3 separate regions of the Homo sapiens genome follow, and all the other regions are linked to region 1. The links come from fine-mapping of genetic effects on gene expression. A gene starts in region 1. Each other region holds a variant in brackets. All regions are shown on one strand. Distances are between the middles of the regions.

Region 1 (6,483 bases):
TCTATGTATCTTCCACCCAAAACTAGGCAAATTTATTTTTAACTCTTACTTAATCTTTACCCATTTGAAAATTCCATTTGAAGTGTTACCAAATAATACATGTAGGATTAGAGTTTATGTTAAACATCAATGCCACATATTCAAACGCTATGAGTGAAAATGAATTCTGATTCATCCCCTAATTTTATATATGCTAGGAGGAAGAACCACCACCCCTACCTTCACTATGGTCAGCTGAGAACTGTCTTCTAATTATCCACCAGGCTTGTCAATATCTTTTTAAGAAAATGATTTTTTCAAAAATGTAAATAAATCAAAACCCTATAAAATCTACACACTTAAGTAGCTAGTTCTTCAGTAACAGAGAGCTCTGACCTTTCATGTAAAAGCTTTTGTAAATATTAGTCAAAGTGAATATTATTCACTTTGTAAAGTAATAATATTCGATTAGATCATGTTGGAGTTTTGTTTTTTTCATCAATTAATTGTTATTAATTCTAATCTAAGGAGAAATAAGATAAAATCATGTTTTAAATCTGCTTTAATATTCTGGTAGTATATTGGGAAAAAATACATGCTATTTCATCCACTCCCTCTGCAACAAATACACCCTCATTCAACAGTAAATACATTTCAGGTTCTGTCCTTGGCGGTAAGGATGCTACTGAGGGGAAGACACCAAATGCCTTGTTTTCATGGTATATTCCCTTTTGGTACTATTCATTTTATGGAGGCTTTATTTAGGTTAATAGCATAATATATTTATAATGTGTGAAGATCTGTGGGTTTATTCAACAAATCATTTGTTGAGTACCTTATATATTCCAGACATTGTTCTAGGCACTGATATTACAGCAGTGAACAAAACAGACAAATCCGCTGCTTCCATGGAGCTTATATTGGAGGTTGGGTGGCAGTAAAGTAGATAAACATAAGGCAGGTGGTAAACGCTCTAAAGAAAAATAAAGCACAGTGATGAGCCAGCTAGTCATGAGAAGGAGTTCTGTTTTACGTAGGGGTATCAGGGAAGGCCTCACTTGTAAGATATGGCACTGTTACAGAGACACGATGAAGTGAGGAAACTAGTTAGCCAGGCAGACTATTTGGGGAATTATTCCAGGCTGACGGAAAATTGCAAGTGCAGATACACGAATGCAGGATTAGGCTTGGTGTATCTGAGTGGAACCAACAGAGCAAGGGAGGAGTGTTAGGAAATGAGGGTAAAAGGGCAGAGGAGTAAAATTAAATAAGACAGTGTACTCCATAAAAAAGTAATTGCATTTTACTTGGAAATGGGAAGCCATGGGAAGGTTATGAGCAGGGGAGAGGCATGACCACATTTATTTCATAAAACAATTGCTTTAGCTACTATTGAGACTATGACTTTGGAAGGGCAAGAGCAGAAGCAAGAACATGACAAGGCTATTGCAGTTATTCAGGTGAGAGATGGGTGGCCTGGCCTGCACTGCTGGCACTGGAGATGGGGAGAAGTGGTCAGATTCTGAATGTATTTCAAATGTTTATGCTGAGTGAAAGAGTCAGACAAAAAAAGAATGTATACGATATTATTCCATTTATATCAAATTCTAGAAAATGCAAACCAATCTGCAGTGACAGAAGGTTGTCTGAAGACAGCTGGGACAAGGGAGGGAGGGATTATAAAGGATCATGAGAACTCTTTCAGAGGTGATGTTGATGAATATGTTAATTAACTTCATTGTGGTAATGGTCTCATGGGTGTAGACATATGTCAAAAATTATCATTGTACACTTTAAACATGTGCAATTTATTGTAGGTTAATTATACTTCAACAAAGCTATTAAAAAAGACATGGGATTGTCTGATGGATTGGACTTGGGTGTGAGAAAAAAGAGGTCGAGGATGGTTTGTATGTTTTTGGCTTAAGCACCTAGAAGATAGGAATTAAATTGTCATTCCTATTCCTCAAATAGGGAAGACCGAAAGGAGCAGAGTTTGAGAGAAAAAGATAAAGAGTTTGGTTTTCAACATATTGTTAGAGATGCCTATTAGACACATCTAAGATATTAAAACAAATAAATACACAGTAGAAAAGAAATGAAGAATGAACAGAACTACTACTTGGATAGAAAGTGCTTGTCCGTGACCTTACCAAATGTATATTTCTCAAGACAGCATTGGAATTACATTGGCCCAGTAGGAACTCTCACGGCTCCTACAGACAAAAATTTGTGAGCATCTGTTTACCGTTTTTTCCTTATTCGATATAATGGATTGCACAGACAAGCCACATTCTTTCTTCTTGCTTTTAAGTAATACGATTTGTTTGGGAAACCAGCTGCTGGGTTTGTTGTTCAAGGTTGATGAGTAACCTTAGAGATTGCAATGAGAAGCTGCTGGTCACAGACAGATGCCAAGTTCTTCAACCAGGGCTGGAGAGCATTGTAGCCACTCTTCTGGAGAGCATTGTAGCCACTCTTCTCTGGGCTGACCTGCTCATGCAGTCCCCCGCTTTTTTAACTGCACATATAAATCATCCAGTTATAGTATGATTTAAATAAGATTTTGCTTCCCTGCTCAGAAAGAAAGTACAAAAATTGCTTGTTGCTTGATGGAGGCTTTACAGAGCTGTGATTAAAAAGGAGCATACTACCTGGGTTTGAATCTTAGCTCCATCACTCACTAGGTGTTTGAATGCCTTAAGGTAGTCATCTCTGAAATGGGGATCATAATAGGACCTACTACTCTAAGGTGCGATTGTTGTGAAGATTAATCTTAATTCTGGCATGAAATAAGTATAAAATGGAAGCTCATCACACTGTTATTAAATTAATTTACTTTTTTCCTATGGATATAGATCTAGGAATCTCAAGATCTCAGCCCAAGGACCATTACCCATTTCTATCAACGACCAAGCAGGCCACGGGCTCTGATTTATATCCTCAGCCCCCTATTCCACTCACCTCCCCCTTTCTTAATCAAAGAGCACCACGGGATGGTGCCCCCAAGGAAGCCCTGGGAGGCTGAAAAGGAGGGAGCCTGAAACCAGAGACTAACAGTGGCAAATCGCGGGTGGGATTTGGCAGTTCAGAAAAGGAGGTACCATGCCAAGAGTGGGGGTAGCGGGGTGAAGTAGCGGGGTGAAGTGGGGGGCTGGTTCGGGACAGGCCACAAACCAGAAACTGCGAGAAGGCGCCAGAAGGGACCTGTTGAGATGGCGCAGGGTTGGGGGACCCAAGCGCGCGGGGAGGGGTGAACTAAGAATGGAGTCACGCGGAGGTGCTGCGAGGGACTGGGGCAAAGGCAGGTGATTGGGCGAGGGAGTCCTGGTTGCCACGGCAGCGACCAGAGGAGAAGGCTTCGAGGAGAGGAGGAGGCTGCTGTCAGTCCTCCTCCTGGAGGTCTCCCGCATCCCTCCTAGAGCCTCTGCTGACGTGTCAGTCGGAAACTGCTCAGACCTTCGCGGGCGCCGCCCCTCTGCGCTTGTCTTCCCACATGCCCCCGGCGCTCCGCCTGGTCCCTGCCCGCGTCCCTGCCCCCGTCCCTGCCCCCGTCCCTGCCCCCGTCCCCGCCCCGTCCCCGCCCCCGCCCCCGCCCCCGTCCCCGCCCCCGTCCCCGCCCCGTCCCCGCCCCAGCCCCCGCCCCAGCCCCCCCGTCCCCGCCCCGTCCCCGCCCCCGTCCCGCCCCTCTGCGCCCGCCCCGGCCTCCTCCTCCGCGTCACCGGCTCCCCGAGGTGACCACAACATGGCTGCGGCGCCTGGGCTGCTCGTCTGGCTGCTCGTGCTCCGGCTGCCCTGGCGGGTGCCGGGCCAGCTGGACCCCAGCACTGGCCGGCGGTTCTCGGAGCACAAACTCTGCGCGGACGACGAATGCAGCAGTGAGTGCGCTGGAGGGGCGGCTGGCCTCGGGGCGGCTGGCCTTGGGGTCTCCGCCGGCCCCGGGGGTCTCCGCGGCGGCGCCGCCTGGGCTGTGCGGGGACGGGAGTTCCGCAGCCCCTGGCCGGCCCGGGGGTCGCAGGCGGGATGGGCTGAACGCGGGGGTGGGCGCGCTCCGGGTCCCTGTGTCTGCCTTCTCCCGCTCTGCCTGCGCCCGGCCCCTCGGGCCTGACCATGGGGGCTGCACCTCCCACTTGTTGCCAGCGTTTTATTTTTCCTCTGCTGAGGCGGGGGGTTGCTTGCGGTGGTCCCCGGCTTCCCCAATAGTGGCTCACAGCGTCCCCTTCCCACCCCCCCAATCCGCCTGGGCTCGGAGGGTAGATGTGGTTGCGCGCCGCGCGTCTGGGCTCCCCACGCCGCAACCAAAGCTTTCCTGCCCGCGCTGCGGGGACCTCGGTGGGTGCATCACCCCGGCAGATGCGCTAAGGGCTCGGTGGGCGTTTTCCCAGTGGCAGGTTGATGGTGGGGTTTGTTTGGAAAGGCTCCCTGGCGCTGCTCCTTTGCCCTTCTGCTTTATTGGGATTTGGGCTTGTACCGCCTTTTGAACAGGAATTGGGAGTTTAGGTTTGGGACGAGTCTGGAGTCCAAGCACTCATTGTATTCCGAGGTCTCTGCCCCGACTTTGATCAATCCTGTCGTTTCTGTGCTTGGAAGCCGCCTTGCAGACTGCTAGGCAGGACTGCAGGAAGACCAAAATCTTTCGCTCTGCAGAGACCGAGGATCTGCACCGGCCACCTGGGACCGGCAGCCTCCTCTTCTGTGCGCAGGAAGCGGAATTGCTCTCCAGTCTGGGATTGGAGGTGGGCGGTGGAGAGGGCACAGATCTTCAGGCTCAGATGAAGAAGGTTATTACAGGAATGACAGTAAATACTCCAAGGGTCTCATAAGCCAAGCTTGGTTTAGCCTTAGCCGCTTGCGTGTTGAAACCTCTTCCCTCTATGTTCGCCGGACCAGGATCATTTTAGGGCCTCCCAGACCGTCTCAACCTTGTAACTTACTGATAGCCACTGCAGAAACGGTTTTTCATACACTGTTAAGCAATGCCTATAGAAACGTATTCATTTTAAGAAGGCCAAGAACTCTATGGTTTAGCTATTTATATTCAAATTGATGTTATCAAAACCGAATTTCATAATATGAACTGTTTGTATCTCTACAACACTAATCAAGAAAAGAGATCTCTAATGAGTGTGAAGCCATTCCTAGAGATAACCCTGTGGTTGATGTAAATAAACACTACAAAAGCGGTACAACTGCCATGATTTTTCCCTTTAGTTTTCTTGGGTCAAAGCCACGCTGTTACCCATTTGCCGTTGGCAATGGCAAGATAGTTGGTATTCTTTGCTTGCAAGCATTGCCCTGCCTGGGTTCCTCAAAACAGGTTACCTGGAGAATCATCACATCACTGATGCTTCTTCAGTACTGAGGCATGATGTTAGAAGAGCTCACGGTTGTAACATAACTTGAGAAATGGTACGTGTTCAGAGGAAACCAAATACAATAGGCATCAACAGGAGCAAGGTCTAGATGGGTCTGTGTTGTGTTGTAGAAAGTGTTTAGTAATGTGAGTATGTACGGTGCCCTTGTGTGGTTTTCAAATAGCTGTTCCACAGGGTGCATTTTGTTGGCATCTCAAATATTATTATAAATCCTCTATGATCTATTGTAAGGGGGAGCAAAAGAAACATTGCCATTTTCAATTCTGATCTTATTCCCAACCTTAAATTGTCCATCATCTTAAACCTGGCCTCACACTCAATTATATCTGAGCTACAAAGCTGACATGTTGGAAAGTAATCAGAGTTTAGCTTCAAAAAACAAGTAGCCCCTTCCAAATCTATATGCGTGTATAGCCATTTAAAGGCACGTTTTTAATGTATTTTATTGCAAATTGGCTTTTGGAAAAAATCTTATTTCTATTCGTCCTTCTTTGTCTCTGCTATTTAGATGTATTTATTGTCCATTTCATCTTACATGGGAAACTGTGTATGTGGTCAACAAAAATAAAAGTACTGCTTCAGCCAGTTTCTAGATCAAGCGTGATTGAATTACTGACCTATTCTCATAGTTTTGCTTAGTCCCAGCCAAATGAGATGTCGACTTTTGATTTTGTTTATAGAAAAATATACATAAGGGTATTCTTTCCTTTGTTTTGAAACTTAATTTTGGATACAGTCAACATTATTTACTTTCAGAAAATATTGCCTTGTGATGTAATTGAATCTATAGTAGGGTGTGATAGATATCTTTTCCCATTAATTTATCCAGACACTGTACTAAGGGAACAACTTGGCTGCAAATGAAATTGACAGTGTTTACTGCTACATAGTACTGGTTACAGTCACTTGAAGATAGACCCTTTTAGTGGTTAGTTCAAGTTAATTGACCTCTTGGGGGTTCCTGGGTACTCTAGTTCCCTATTACCCGTTCATGTAGCCATGCTTAAGTTAATCATCATCTGGGCTTGAATTTACCCATTTGCAAAAGGAAGCTTTTTATGAATATGAAACAGAAAAGATTGAGGACTAGAAGGTTAGAGAGGGAATCGAGAGTTTCACTTGGGTGAGA
Region 2 (6,483 bases), 130 kb after region 1:
ATTGAAAATAACTAGATAACTCTCAGCTCTGGGTAACTTGCCCTAAGGTGCCCTGTTTTTAATTTTCTAGTTGTTTTGTTTCATTATGGAGATTGACGGTTTCCAGCAGTTAGACCTAGAGAAGAGTGTACCTTCCAAAAAGACTACTCCTAAAAGGATTATCCATTTTGTTGACGGAGACATCATGGAAGAATATAGCACAGAGGAGGAGGAGGAAGAGGAAAAGGAGGAGCAGAGCACAAATTCAACACTTGACCCTGTAAGCTTAGTATATCAATATTAGGGAACATGGTGGGGGAGGCGGTGAATGAACAAGAGATTGAGCCAGACAAGGTTTATAGAAAGAATAGCTTTAAGCTAAGTCCTTGGTCTCCTTTTTTGCTTTCTAAATCCATGCATAGGCAACTTACAATTTTAATCATCTTGGTCTCTTCATCTGTGAGAGAGAAAATGGAACATATTATATAGAGCATTTTGAAATCTCTACATTAAAACAAATCTGCAGTCACCATTCCTCTTATTAACTACTCTATCTCAATTTCTCCTTTTTTCAGTCTAAACTTTCCTGGGGGCCCTACCTACGATTTTGGGCAGGACGAATAGCAAGCACCTCATTTTCTAGTAAGTACTGCTAAGGTTATTTTTTTCTATCCTAAACAAATATATATATCGATAGGCCCTCAGAGTATGTGGGACTTCCAATTGTGTAAGCCACTCCATCGCATCCTGAATAAGTGAGATCTGGGCTAAGCTTTCATTCCCAAAGGCACAGAACTTCGCATCCTCAGGCAGACCCTTCATCTTTTACCAACTCTCATCAGGAAATTCTTATCTCGGCCCAAATTTTATCTACTTCTAAAGTTCCTACTTATCTTTCTTAACCATACAAAACTGCTATAGATGCCTCTTTCATAGGACAGAGGGCAATATTTGAGGGCAATAATCAGTCCTCCCTGAGTTGACTCTTCTTCTGAATAAACTTCCAAGTTAAAAAAACAATGATTGTTGTATGACACAGTTCTAAGTTTCTAACTTCCCTCATCATAACTGCTTTATTATAAACATGAACTTTATCGATCCCTCCTGGGGGCATAATGAATGGGCTAAGTGAATACTTATAACAACTAAAATACTAAATCTTATTTTGCTTGACTTTCATCAATTTTTTTAAGACATAGTTGACAACATCTAATTACTCATTTCCTTCTAACTTGCACATCTTGTGAATATGATAGGAAGGCAAACTAAGAGTCTGAGAAAATAGAAATTGTATTAATAGCTCTTAGAAATTGATCTTCATTCATTCATTTAAAAAACATTAGTAAGTGTCTACTATATGCTCAGCACTGTGCTGGACCCTGGGACACAAAGATGAATGACAAGTCTCTGCTTTCAAGGGACTCAATATTCAGTGAGTCATATAGACCAGCAAACATGCTCGTAATTATAATTTGTTGTCACAGTTGCCAGGGTAGAAAGTGTATAGGGGCTCTGACCTGGAAGACTCGGGCATGCTGACATGTGGGGGAGACCCCTTAAGAGAGCTATGAAAGTGTGGCTGGCTAAGGCTAGCTTGAGGACCATGAAAGTGACCAGGGAATCTTTAGATTACAGTAAAAAGTAAAGATGGGGTGATTTAGGCAGATGGTATGAACCTTCAAGAAATAAGTGCTTTTACACAAGTGCAGAGGGTTAGTGATTTGGAAGTTACGTTGAAAATCCCGTGAATACCAACCCTACCCTGACCACAATAAGTTAACAGAAAAAAAAATGCTGTCTTCCAGAAAGCTCTCTACACTTCGGTTAAGGCAAAAGGGTTTGAAAAGATATGTTTTAGAGGGAGGGAATTGGAGAAGATTAGGTCAGGTAAAAGAAGCAAAACTCAATATGGGATTGAGAGTATGGAGAAGAAGAATGATTTGCATGTTGGGTTTTGATTTGAGATTGCAGGGATAGGATGTATGGTGAGCCTAGCTTCCTTGTGAGTGCCAAACAGAACTGCAGTGGTAAAATGCTCCTGACTGGGGCTTCAAGATTGTAGTGGAGGCATAAAGATGCTAGCAGTCAGTGCTGTGGTCTGTCTACACAGAGATTTTGTTTGAATGGAGTTGGAACTCAGACGACACAGGTAATTAATTTTTTCAATTTAAAATTCTAGTAGGTCATAAACAGGAAAGCTTCCTAAGATTTATTTTAATATTTTTTTAAAAAGTTATCTTCTACACATGTACTAGGCAGTGCAGCAAATAAACAGGACAAAGAGATAGCATATTAATGAAAAGATAAGACATATTTAAAAACAGCATCATTTTGATGCCCTATATGAGCAATATCCCAAGAGGTAGAATGAGTCAGAGGAATCAGAAAGTCCTATAATTCAGGGGTAAGAGAAGGCTGTCGGAAATCCTCTAATTGTAAAGGAAAACTTTTCTAGGAGACTTCTTTAGGAAACCACTCATTATTCATGCTATGCCTTTATCCCTGACTCTAACAATCCCAGTGCTGAGCCTGCAGGCCACCTTGCTACTGAAGGCAGAAAAGGAAGGCCTTAAACAACTTCTGAGAAGTCTGTCTGGATGCATGGAAGAATTCCTGATGTGGGTCTTGGTAACACTGGATTGAGTTTGGGTTTAATTTGAAATATACTTGGAGCAGATGTTTAGCCGGTATGCATGGGGATAATGAACAATACCTGTTCTGATTGCTCAGGACCCATGCTATACCTGTTGTTAAAGTATATTGAAAATCTCTCCTGATATATACATCTGGAAAAAATAGTTTATATATAATCCCATATAAAGATAGAAGATTTGACAAATTTCCTTTGAATCCTAGAATTTTTGAGAGGCCAAGGCAATTGAAATGTTTTGTCAGCCTTGAAGTTAAGTATAGTAATAGACCACTATTACTATACTATCAGAATAGTTTAAACTCTGGGCATCTCAACTGATGCGAAGCTTTAGTTAGTAATTCAGTTTACGCAAGTGCTCGTTCTTTCTTTTAGCATGTGAATTCCTTGGTGGAAGATTTGCTGTCTTCTTTGGTCTTACTCAACCCAAATATCAGTATGTGTTAAACGAGTTCTATAGGATACAAAACAAGGTATGTGACACTCTGATGGAAACAAGGGGCCTGAGATGGGAATATTGGTTGCTCCAAATTTAGGCCAGTATAGAGAAGTATTTTTCCCACCTGGTCATATGTACTATAATTTCACCAAGCTCCCATAGTCAGACTGACTTATTTTTCTAGTTCTGTTCACCCAGGGACACTTCTTCACATTTGCCTCACTCCTGCGAAGTTAGGATGTCATGAGCTGTGTTGTAGAAGAAGGTAGTTGGGTGAGAAGGCTCAGATTGCTTAAAGTAGAAGCTTCTTACATGGGCATTATATACAAGAGGGGGAGTTCAGAGGTCTTTGTTTGTACAGTTAAACATTTCCTTATTTCTCTCCAAAACAGAAAAGTGACAACAAAAGTGAAAGGAGAGGATCAAAGGCCCAGGCAGCTGAGGTTCCTAATGAAAAGTGTCACTTGGAGGCTGGGGTCC[A/G]AGAGTATGGAACCATACAACAGGATGTGACAGAGGCCATTCCTCAGTGAAGCACCTCATCCAGGGAGGGTCTGGTGGCAGATCCTAGCTCATGATGGCAGCAAAGACTGCAGTTTCCCTGGATCTGTTCCTTGGCCATTGATTACCATGGCAACAACACCAGAGGTAGCACTTCTGAGCCAGATCTGATCCTAATCTCTGTGTGACTTAGTCTCAAGCATCCAGGAATTACAAGCAATAATGAGAGTAATTTTGGACACTTTCTCAGAATAATTTCTATATTCAAGCCACCCCACCTCAACTCCACCCCTGTGATACAAGTCCCATGAGTACTGACATTTGCACAGTAGCATAAATGCCTTAAGGAACTTTGGGACTGGGAGTTTTTGGCTGAAATCCTCTGTCATGGGACGAGGGTACAGTAAAGAAGCTCTATTCCTCAGAAGAAAATTTGGGCACCGCAAAGTCTAAATAAATCCCCTTTCAGGATTTGATATAGTGTGTACTTCCAACAACCATCCTGGCGTAGTTGGGGATTGTTTTACAATAAGTAAACATTGCTAATAACTGTGTTACAAGATCATTATCAAGATCTTTAAGAATTAGGTACATCCCTCCAAATTAAAACAATTGATAAATAATATAAGCTCTAGAAAAAAATATTAATGGATTATTTTCTTATTTATTTGTCAAGAAATTTTCAAAACCTGGAAAGATCGAACATGGAAATCATTGTTAGATAACACAGGGTGTGCTGGCCAAAGTAACTGTGATACATTAATAGCAAAAAACAAACCAAAAAAAAAAAAAATGAAAAACACAGGGCCTGCAGTAGTAAGACATGAGTTCCAGTTTCACTTCTCCCATTTACTAGTTGTGTGATTTGAGATGTCTAGATTTCTGAGCTCCAGTCTACTTTGTAAAATATGGGTGACTTGACTTTGCTTGTTATTGTTATACAGAATTATGAGAAATAATAATTTATTGTTGTTTTAAGCTTTGGAGTGGTTTGTTATGCAGCCATATATAACTGAAATTATAGCTCTAAGAGAAGAGGAAGTTGGAATTAATTTAATATGAAATCAAAGACAGAAGTAGGCCTGGAGCATAAGGAGTTGTGAGTTGAATATAGTAGGATAGGATAGATTATGCTGCACAGACACCTCCAAAATCTCAGTGTCCTAAAACAAGAAAGTTTATTTCTTTCTCTTGAGAAGTCCACTGTCAGTTTAGGTGGCTTCCCAGACAGGTGTTCTCCGTGTGATAGCTCAGTGTTGCATGCTTCTTTGATCTTATGTTTTCTCCATACTGTGATGTGCTCTCGGGGTTGCTGGAAAAGGAACAGCATGGAGAGTTAAGCAGTGGCAATCAATATCTCCACTAAAAATGAATCATGTCACCTCTGTGTATGTTTCGTTCACCAAAGAAAATCACATGGCTATAATTAATTTTATGGGTGTCTGAGCCTCCTAAGATAGCTGAGAAAAGGAAACACTTTCTTCTAATGGCATAGGAGATAAATGGTAGGCTCAAGGATCAATATGATATTGATTTAATCTCAGCTCTCCTGCCTCTTTGTAACCCAGTAGCTCTGTGCAAATTACTCAACTTCTCAATGTTCTCATCTATAAAACAGGTTTGAGACAGGAAGCAAATATAATTTGAACCAGCTTTATGCAACAAAAAAGAATTTTGTGGAAAGTACACTGAGTTATCAAATGGACACCAAAGGGAGATTAGTCTCAATAGGATCTAAACAGTGTGACAAGCAAGCACCCAACAGGTACTGTCTGTCCATCTCTCATCTTTCTTGCCCATGAGGAAGATGCCCACTCTATAGCTCTTGATAATTCTTCTGTTCAAGTGACTGATATACTAGTCTTTCGTCCCCATTTCAAAGCATAGTGTGGATAGAATCTGTTTTGCTCCTTTTTGTCAAGTATCACTCTCTAATTCAATTAATTGTGGCCAGGGAGATGGAGCCTTGTAGTAGCAACATGGTTATGGGACCTATTTCTGGGTTAAGATGGTTCTCAGGAAAAGGAAATTGCAGTGAGCTAGGTAGGTATCCCATGACTGTTTCATGTTAAAATTGAGGAAAAGCACGTAAAGCTGTGGCTCTAATAAGGTGCTTAAGTCATAGTATCAATTACAATTATTAATATTTATGATGGTTAATTCTATGTGTCAACTTGACTGGGCCACAGGATGCCCAAATTAAACATTACTTCTGGGTGTATCTGTGAGGATATTTCTGGATGACATTAGCATTTGAATTGTTGGACTCAGTAAATGGATTGCCTTCCCAATGTGGATGAGCACCATCCAATCCACTGAGGGCTTGAATGAAACAAAAGGCCAAGGAGGGAAGAATTTGCTCCTTTTTTCTGCCTTATTGCTTGAGCTTGGATATCTCATCTCATTTCATCTTCTCCTGCCCATGGACTGGGATTTACTACCTTGGCTTCTCTCATTCTTAGGTCTTTGAACTCAAACTGATTTACATCACTGGCTTTCCTGGGTCTCCAGTTGGTGAATGGCAGATTGTGGGACTTCTCAACCACCATAATCACAATAAATTCAGTTCCTCATAATAAATCTCATTGTATCTATCTATCCAATTATCTGTCTATCTACCTATGTCTCTATAAATCTATGCTATTGGTTCTGCTTCACTGGAGAACCCTGACTATTATAATATTGAATGAGAATCCCGGTTTCATGGATTCTGAACGGCTTGTCCCCACTGAAGAGTCAGTCTTAGGTCTTCATCTGACATGTTCTGTTAGTCCAGTTTCAAGGTGAAGTAAATCTGAAGGTTTTATCATATTGCAGAAGTGACCAGGTCTATCAGTTAAGCATTGGTTACTTCAGTCTTAGGTGTCTGATCATACTAACAATCTATACCTGATTTACTTACTATTTTGCTTCAGAA
Region 3 (6,483 bases), 160 kb after region 1:
AAACCAAAAATAAGTATATTTGATTATAAATGTCAGATATATCAACATATCACTCTTAAGGTGACAAAGATTAACAATAAAAGGATGGACAAATAACACTAGACAAAATGCAAACAAAAAGAAATCAGGAATGTCAACGAGGTGGAATGTAAGTTTAGAAGCTTGAAACAGGATAAAGGAGAATATTATATAACAATAAAAGACACAATCTACAAAGAAGATGTGTAATAATTATGTATATACTAAACAGCTTTGCATTATATATGAAGCCAAAGGTAATTAAAATATGAAACTTTGATAAAAAATATACAATTACTCTGAGAGATTTTAACTCATGTCTTTCAGATCAATAGATACAGTAGTAAAAAATGTAAGACATATAAAGACTGAATAATGCAAAAGTCCAAAGTTTTATGTCCTATAAATGGAGAACTATTTTATTGTTTGTGAAGCATTTTCCAAAGTTGGTATTACCTTGACCATAAAGGTTGTTAATAAAAATTTTAAAGTAGATATTTTTTCAGGCAAAATTCTTTAATCAAATACCAATTACATTAAATATAAATAACTAAAGGATGGTAATTGTATTTTTTTCTACTTGAAAATTAAAAAGTGTCTTTCTAAATAAATCCTGGATCAAAAAAGAACCAATAAAAAACTATGCTTTTAGTTAGGAAGACAATATAATCTTCCAAATATTAATAGGCATATACAATATATTTCAATGAGATTCACTTTTCTATTCTTTTTTCTTCAGAGATGGGGTCATGTTATGTTAACCAGGTTAGTCTTGAGCTCCTGGCCTCAAGCAATCCTCCTGCCTCAGCCTCCCAAAGTGCTAGGATTCCAGGCAAGAACCACTGCACCGGGCCACTATTATATTCTTTAATGAGATAAAATGATCTTAAAGCTTTTATAGAAGACTAAAGGTTAAAGACTTTTTAAAAATTGTGAAAAAGAAGAATACTGAGAGATACTTCCCTTTCCAGATATTAAAACGTATTTTAAGATCTAGTACTAAAATGTTATGGTAGTTGCTCATTATCATTGTGATTGACCCTCTTTATCCCTAGTAATATTTCTCACTCAGATGTCTACTTTGTCTGTATTAATATAGCCACTCTAGCTTTCTTTCGATTAGGGTTTGCATAAGATGACTTTTTTTTTCACTGTTTTACCTTTAGCTTACATGTGTCTATATTTAAAGTGGGTTTCTTGTGGACAACATATAGCTGGGTCTTACTTTTCAACCAGTCTGACAATGTTTGTTTTTCAGTTGGGGTGTATAGACCATTTACATTTAACATACTTGTTAATATGGTTGGGGTTCTATTTTTTTTTTATGTGTTTTATCTGGGTTTTTTGTTCTCTTTTTCCTCTTACCCTTCCTTCTTTTGGATTAAGTATGACTTTATCTCCTTTATTGGCCTATTAGCTATAACTCTTTGTTCTTAATGTTAATTTACTGGTTGCCTTATAGTGTGCATCTTTAACATATCACAGTCTACATTCAAGTGATATTATTCCACTTCACATGTGATATAAGAAGCTTACTTCTATCAACAATACATCAAAGAGAATAGTTTTTATGTATTATTGCCTCTAGGTCTATCTTGGTTAAAAAGTTCTTTTCAAACCCAAGCTTATACATGTATTCTCTTAAAACTGTTCTATAGTTTTTGTTTACATACAGATTTTAAGTTTTTTTGGAAATTGATTTTTGTATATGGTGTGAAACAGGGGTCTAACTTTATTTTCCTCCAGGCCAGTTGTGTCCTAACCAATATAAAATAAACCATTGTTTTCCCATTGACTTCAAATAGCACTTTTGGCATACAGTCAGATGTTGCTTAACAGTGAGGATATGTTCTGAGAAATGCATCATTAGGTGGTTTTGTCATTGTGCAAACATCACAGAGTGTACTTACACAAACCTAAATTGTATAGCCTACCACACACCTAGGGCATGGACAATAGAAAAAGTATTCTTCCATTGTCTCCTTCTTGGCCTTTGTATTAACCTTATGATATTGGTATCGTAATAGGCAAAAAGAAAAGTAGAAGAGAAAAAAATGTCCAGAAATAGATGTCAGTATATATATATGATAACTGAATATATAGTCAGGCACTATATAACTACATTTTGGTCAACAATGGACTGCATATATGACAGTGGTCCCATAAGATTATAATACTATATTTTTGCCATACCTTTCCTATGTTTATATACACAAATACTTACCACAGTGTTACAATTGCCTACAATATCAGTACAGTAACATGCTGTACAGGTTTGTAGCCTAGGAGCAATGGGCTATACCATATAGCCTAGATGTGCGGTAGGCTCTATCATCCATGTTTATGTAAGGGCACTCTATGATGTTTACTCAAAGGCAGAATCACCTAATGATGCATTTCTCAGAACGTATTCCCATTGTTAAGCAATGCATGGCTGTATGCCAAAAGTGCTATTTCAAGTTAATGGGAAAACTATGGTTTATTTTAAATTGGTTATGACACAACTGGCCTAGAGAAGAATAAAATTGGGATCCCTGCTTCACACCATATACAAAAATAAATTTCCAGAAAAACTTAAACTCTATATGTAAACAAAAACTATAGAACAATTTTAAAAGAATATATGTGTAAGCTAGGGTTTGGAGAGAGAAACCTTTTTAATCAAGACAAGAGCCTAGAGGCAATAAAATATAAAATAAATATATTCGATGATATAAAATATAAAATGTTATATGGCAAAATAAAAACAAAATCACAAGACAAAAAGATTGATAAAAAGTATGTGCCACAAAAATAACTCACACATAAAATGAATATGCATATCTGTCAGAAGGTTCCTATAAATTGACTATCAACAGAATACAGAAATAGAGACAAATAAATATAAAAAGTCAATTTATAGAAGAGAAATGCAAATGGTCAATAAACCAATGAAAATATTTTCTAATGTGGAGAAAATGCAAATTAAAGTAACAATGAGATGTCTCAACTTATCTACCAAATTAGCAGACAATAAAAACTTACTATTGATGAAAATGTGAAAAAAACCTATTCTGTGCATATATTGCCAGGGGAAATTTGGATTGTTACAGCTTTTATGGAAAGCAATCCAGATATATATTTTAAATTTTACAATTTACATACTCTGATGGAGAAATCCTTCTGGAAATCTATCTGCTATAAGTGAAATTCCAATATGTAAAAATATACATGCAAAGATGTTTACCATAGCGTTGTTTGTTGCAGCAAAAAATTAGAAACTGAGTAAATGCCTTTCAATATGGTGGAAGAAACTGTGATACAATTAAGCCATGGAATATAAGTTAATTATTGAAAAGAACGAGTTGCAGCAGGGCATGATGGCTCACTCCTGTAATCCCAGCACTTTGGGAGGCCAAGGCAGTAGGATTGCTTGAGCCCAGGAGTTTGAGACCAGCCTGGACCACATAAGGAGATCCCGTACCTACAAAAAAATTTAAAAATTAGCCAGGTGTGGTGGCTCAGGAGGCTAAGATAGGAGGATTGCTTGAGCCTAGGTGGTCAAGGCTGCAGTGAGCCGTGATTGCACCACTGCACTCCAGCCTGGGTGACAGGGAAAACCCGTCTCAAAAAAAAAAAAAAGAATGAGTTGGATGTATACCACTGAGGGAAATTCCATAATGTATCAAGAGAAAAAAAAAAGTAAAAAAAACTAGACACAAAGGAATACAGATAATATGATCCCATTTTTGTAAAATACACATGAATTAGAAAAGAAAAGCTTATTATATATAGTTTATACGTGATTGTATGAATACAAATGAAGCATGAAAGAATAGATAACAGATTGTAAATTTTGGCAGAGGAGAGGAGTAATAG[G/GAAAC]AAACAAAAGGAGACTAAAGAATTTCCCTGTTCTTTTATAATAATTATTATTATTATTATTTACCACATGATTACTGATTTTTTTTTTTAACAGAGTCTCGCTGTGTCGCCCAGGCTGGAGTGCAGTGGTGCTATCTCGGCTCACTGCAACCTCCTCCTCCCGGGTTCAAGCGATTCTTGTGCCTCAGCCTCCTGAGTAGTTGGGACTACAGGTGCATGCCACCACGCCTGGCTAATTTTTGTATTTTTAGTAGAGACAGGGTTACACCATGTTGACCAGGCTGGTCTCAAACTCCTGACCTCAAGTGATCCACCCACCTCAGACTCCCAAACTGCTGGGATTACAGGTGTGAGCCACCACGCCAGGCTATGATTTTCTATTTAGTAGGAACGATAAAAAATATACGAGGATACTAATTTAAATACTGAGATATAGTTCTAAAATAAATTATGATTTTTCTTTTTTCTTTTATTTTAAAATATTTAATTGACAAATATTGTATATACTCAAGGTGTACAATGTGATGAGGCATATGCATATACATTGTGATATGGACAATCAAATTAACCCATCTATTACCACCTATGCTATACATTGGATCCCCAGAACTTTATCATCTTAAAACTGAAAGTTTGTACTCTTTGACCATCATCTCTCCATTTTTTCCACTTCGAACTCCTAGCAACCACCATTCTACTTTCTGCCCCTGAGTTCAACTTTTTGAGATTCCACATACAAGTGAGGTCATACAGTATTTGTCTTTCTGTGTCCAGCTTATTTCACTTAGAATAATATCCTTTAGGTTTATCAATGCTGTCACAAATGACAGGATTTTTTTTTATGGCTGAATAATCTTTCATTGTATCTAACACATTTTATTTACTCATTCATCTGTCAATGGGCACTTAGGTTGTTTCCATATCTTGGCCATCGTGAATAATGCTGCAACGAATATGGGGATATAGATATCTCTTCAAGATACTGATTTCATTTCATTTGGATATATACCCAGAAGTGGGATTGCTTGATCATATGGTAGTTCTATTTTTAATTTTTTGAGGAACCTCCATACTGTTTTCCATAATAGTTGTACCAATTGGTATTTCCACCAACAGTATACAAGGTTCCCTTTTCTTCATGCCCTTGTCAACACTTGTTATCTTTTTTCTTTTTGATAATAGCCATCCTAAGAGATGTGAGGTGATATCTCATTGTGGTTTTAATTAGAATTCTCTGGTGATTAGTGATTTTGAGCACTTCTTTATATATCTGTTGGCAATCTGTGTGTCATCTTTGGAAAAATGCCTATTTAGGTCTTTTGCCCATTTTTTAATTGGGTTACTTATTTTTTTGCTATGGAGTTTGTTGTACATTTTGATATTAACCCTTTATCAGATATATAGTTTGCATATGTTTTCTCCCATTTCACAGGTTGCATTTTCATTGTGTTGATTATTTCATTTGCTGTTCAGTAGCTTTTCAGTTTGATATAGTCCCATATGTTTATTTTTGCTTTTGTCGCTAGTGCTTTTGTTGACATATCCAAAACAGTCAGAAAACAATTAACAAAATGGCAACAGTATGCCCTTACTTATTAATAATTACTCTAAATATAAATGGATTACATTTGCTAATCAAAAGACACAGAGAGGCCGAATGGATTAATAAACAAGATCCAATAATATGCTAACTACAAGAGATTCATTTTAGTCTCAAGGGCACACAGACTGAAAGTGTAGGGGTGGAAAGAGATACTCCATGCAAACGGAAACCAAAAGAGAGCAGGGGTAGCTATATTTATATTAAACAAACTAGACTTTTAGTCAAAATCTGTCACAAGAGGTCAGGTGCTGTGGCTCATGCCTTGAATGCTAGCACTTTGGGAGGCTTAGGTGAGCGGTTCACTCGAGCACATGAGTTCAAGACCAGCCTGAGCAACATGGCAAAACTCCATCTCTACAAAAAATACAAAAATTAGCCAGGCATGTTGGTGTGTGCCTGTAGTCCCAGCTACTTGAGAGGCTGAGGTGGGAGGATGGCTTAAGCCCAGGAGGCAGAGGTTGCAGTGAACCAAGATTATGCCACTGCACTCCAGCCTTGGCAACAGAGCCAGACGTTATCTTGAAAAAAACAAATAAATAAAAAATAAACAAAATCTGTCACAAAAGACAAAGAAGATCACAATATGATGATAAGAGGTCAATTCATCAGGAGGGTATAACAATTGTAAATACATATGCACCTAACATTGGAGCACCTAAATATGTAAAGCAAATATTAACAGAACTAGAAAGAGAAACAGACAGCAATGCAATAATAATAAGGGACTTCAATCACCCACATTCAACAATGGATAGATCATCTAGAGAGAAGATTAGTAATGAAATAGCAGATGTGAATAAAACTATAGACAAATCAACCTACCAAACATAGACAGAACAATCCATTCAACAGAAGCAAACACACATTCTTCTCAGGAGCACACAGTACCTACTCCAGGGTAGATCACACGTTGGGCCACAAAACCAGTCTTAAATCTAAGAAGATTGAAATCATATCAAGTATCTTTTCTGATCGAAATGTTACAAAACTAAAAATTGACAATA

Direction of the effects. Alleles are on the strand shown, and positions count from the first base shown. SD is a standard deviation of normalised expression in the study named. Not every link is listed here.
In carriers of allele G in region 2, the expression in lymphoblastoid cells of the gene that starts at base 3,711 in region 1 tends to be lower than with A alone (moderate effect, 0.52 SD a copy in TwinsUK).

The links.
Region 2: its variant is fine-mapped to the expression of MIA3 in lymphoblastoid cells (TwinsUK, PIP 0.95).
Region 3: its variant is fine-mapped to the expression of MIA3 in whole blood (INTERVAL, PIP above 0.99).

Annotation. Positions count from the first base shown.
Region 1 is chr1:222,614,387-222,620,869 of GRCh38, forward strand. It overlaps MIA3 (MIA SH3 domain ER export factor 3), which reads left to right and starts at 3,711. Exons shown (of 28, transcript NM_198551.4): 1 at 3,711-3,857. The coding sequence starts at 3,725. RefSeq lists a cis regulatory region at 2,121-2,703, silencers at 3,509-3,578, 3,749-4,008 and enhancers at 3,529-4,411, 4,692-4,751.
Region 2 is chr1:222,746,461-222,752,943 of GRCh38, forward strand. It overlaps FAM177B (family with sequence similarity 177 member B), which reads left to right. Exons shown (of 6, transcript NM_001394345.1): 3 at 71-259; 4 at 555-621; 5 at 3,005-3,102; 6 at 3,461-4,544. The coding sequence starts at 86. The coding sequence ends at 3,598. LOC105372984 (a long non-coding RNA gene) reads right to left here. Exons shown (of 4, transcript XR_922641.3): 4 at 4,722-4,878. Among named protein-coding and RNA genes, the nearest start is that of FAM177B, 12 kb to the left of the region's middle. The variant A/G (reference allele first, on the strand shown) is at 3,549.
Region 3 is chr1:222,775,778-222,782,260 of GRCh38, forward strand. No RefSeq gene overlaps it. Among named protein-coding and RNA genes, the nearest start is that of DISP1, 36 kb to the right of the region's middle. The variant G/GAAAC (reference allele first, on the strand shown) is at 3,877.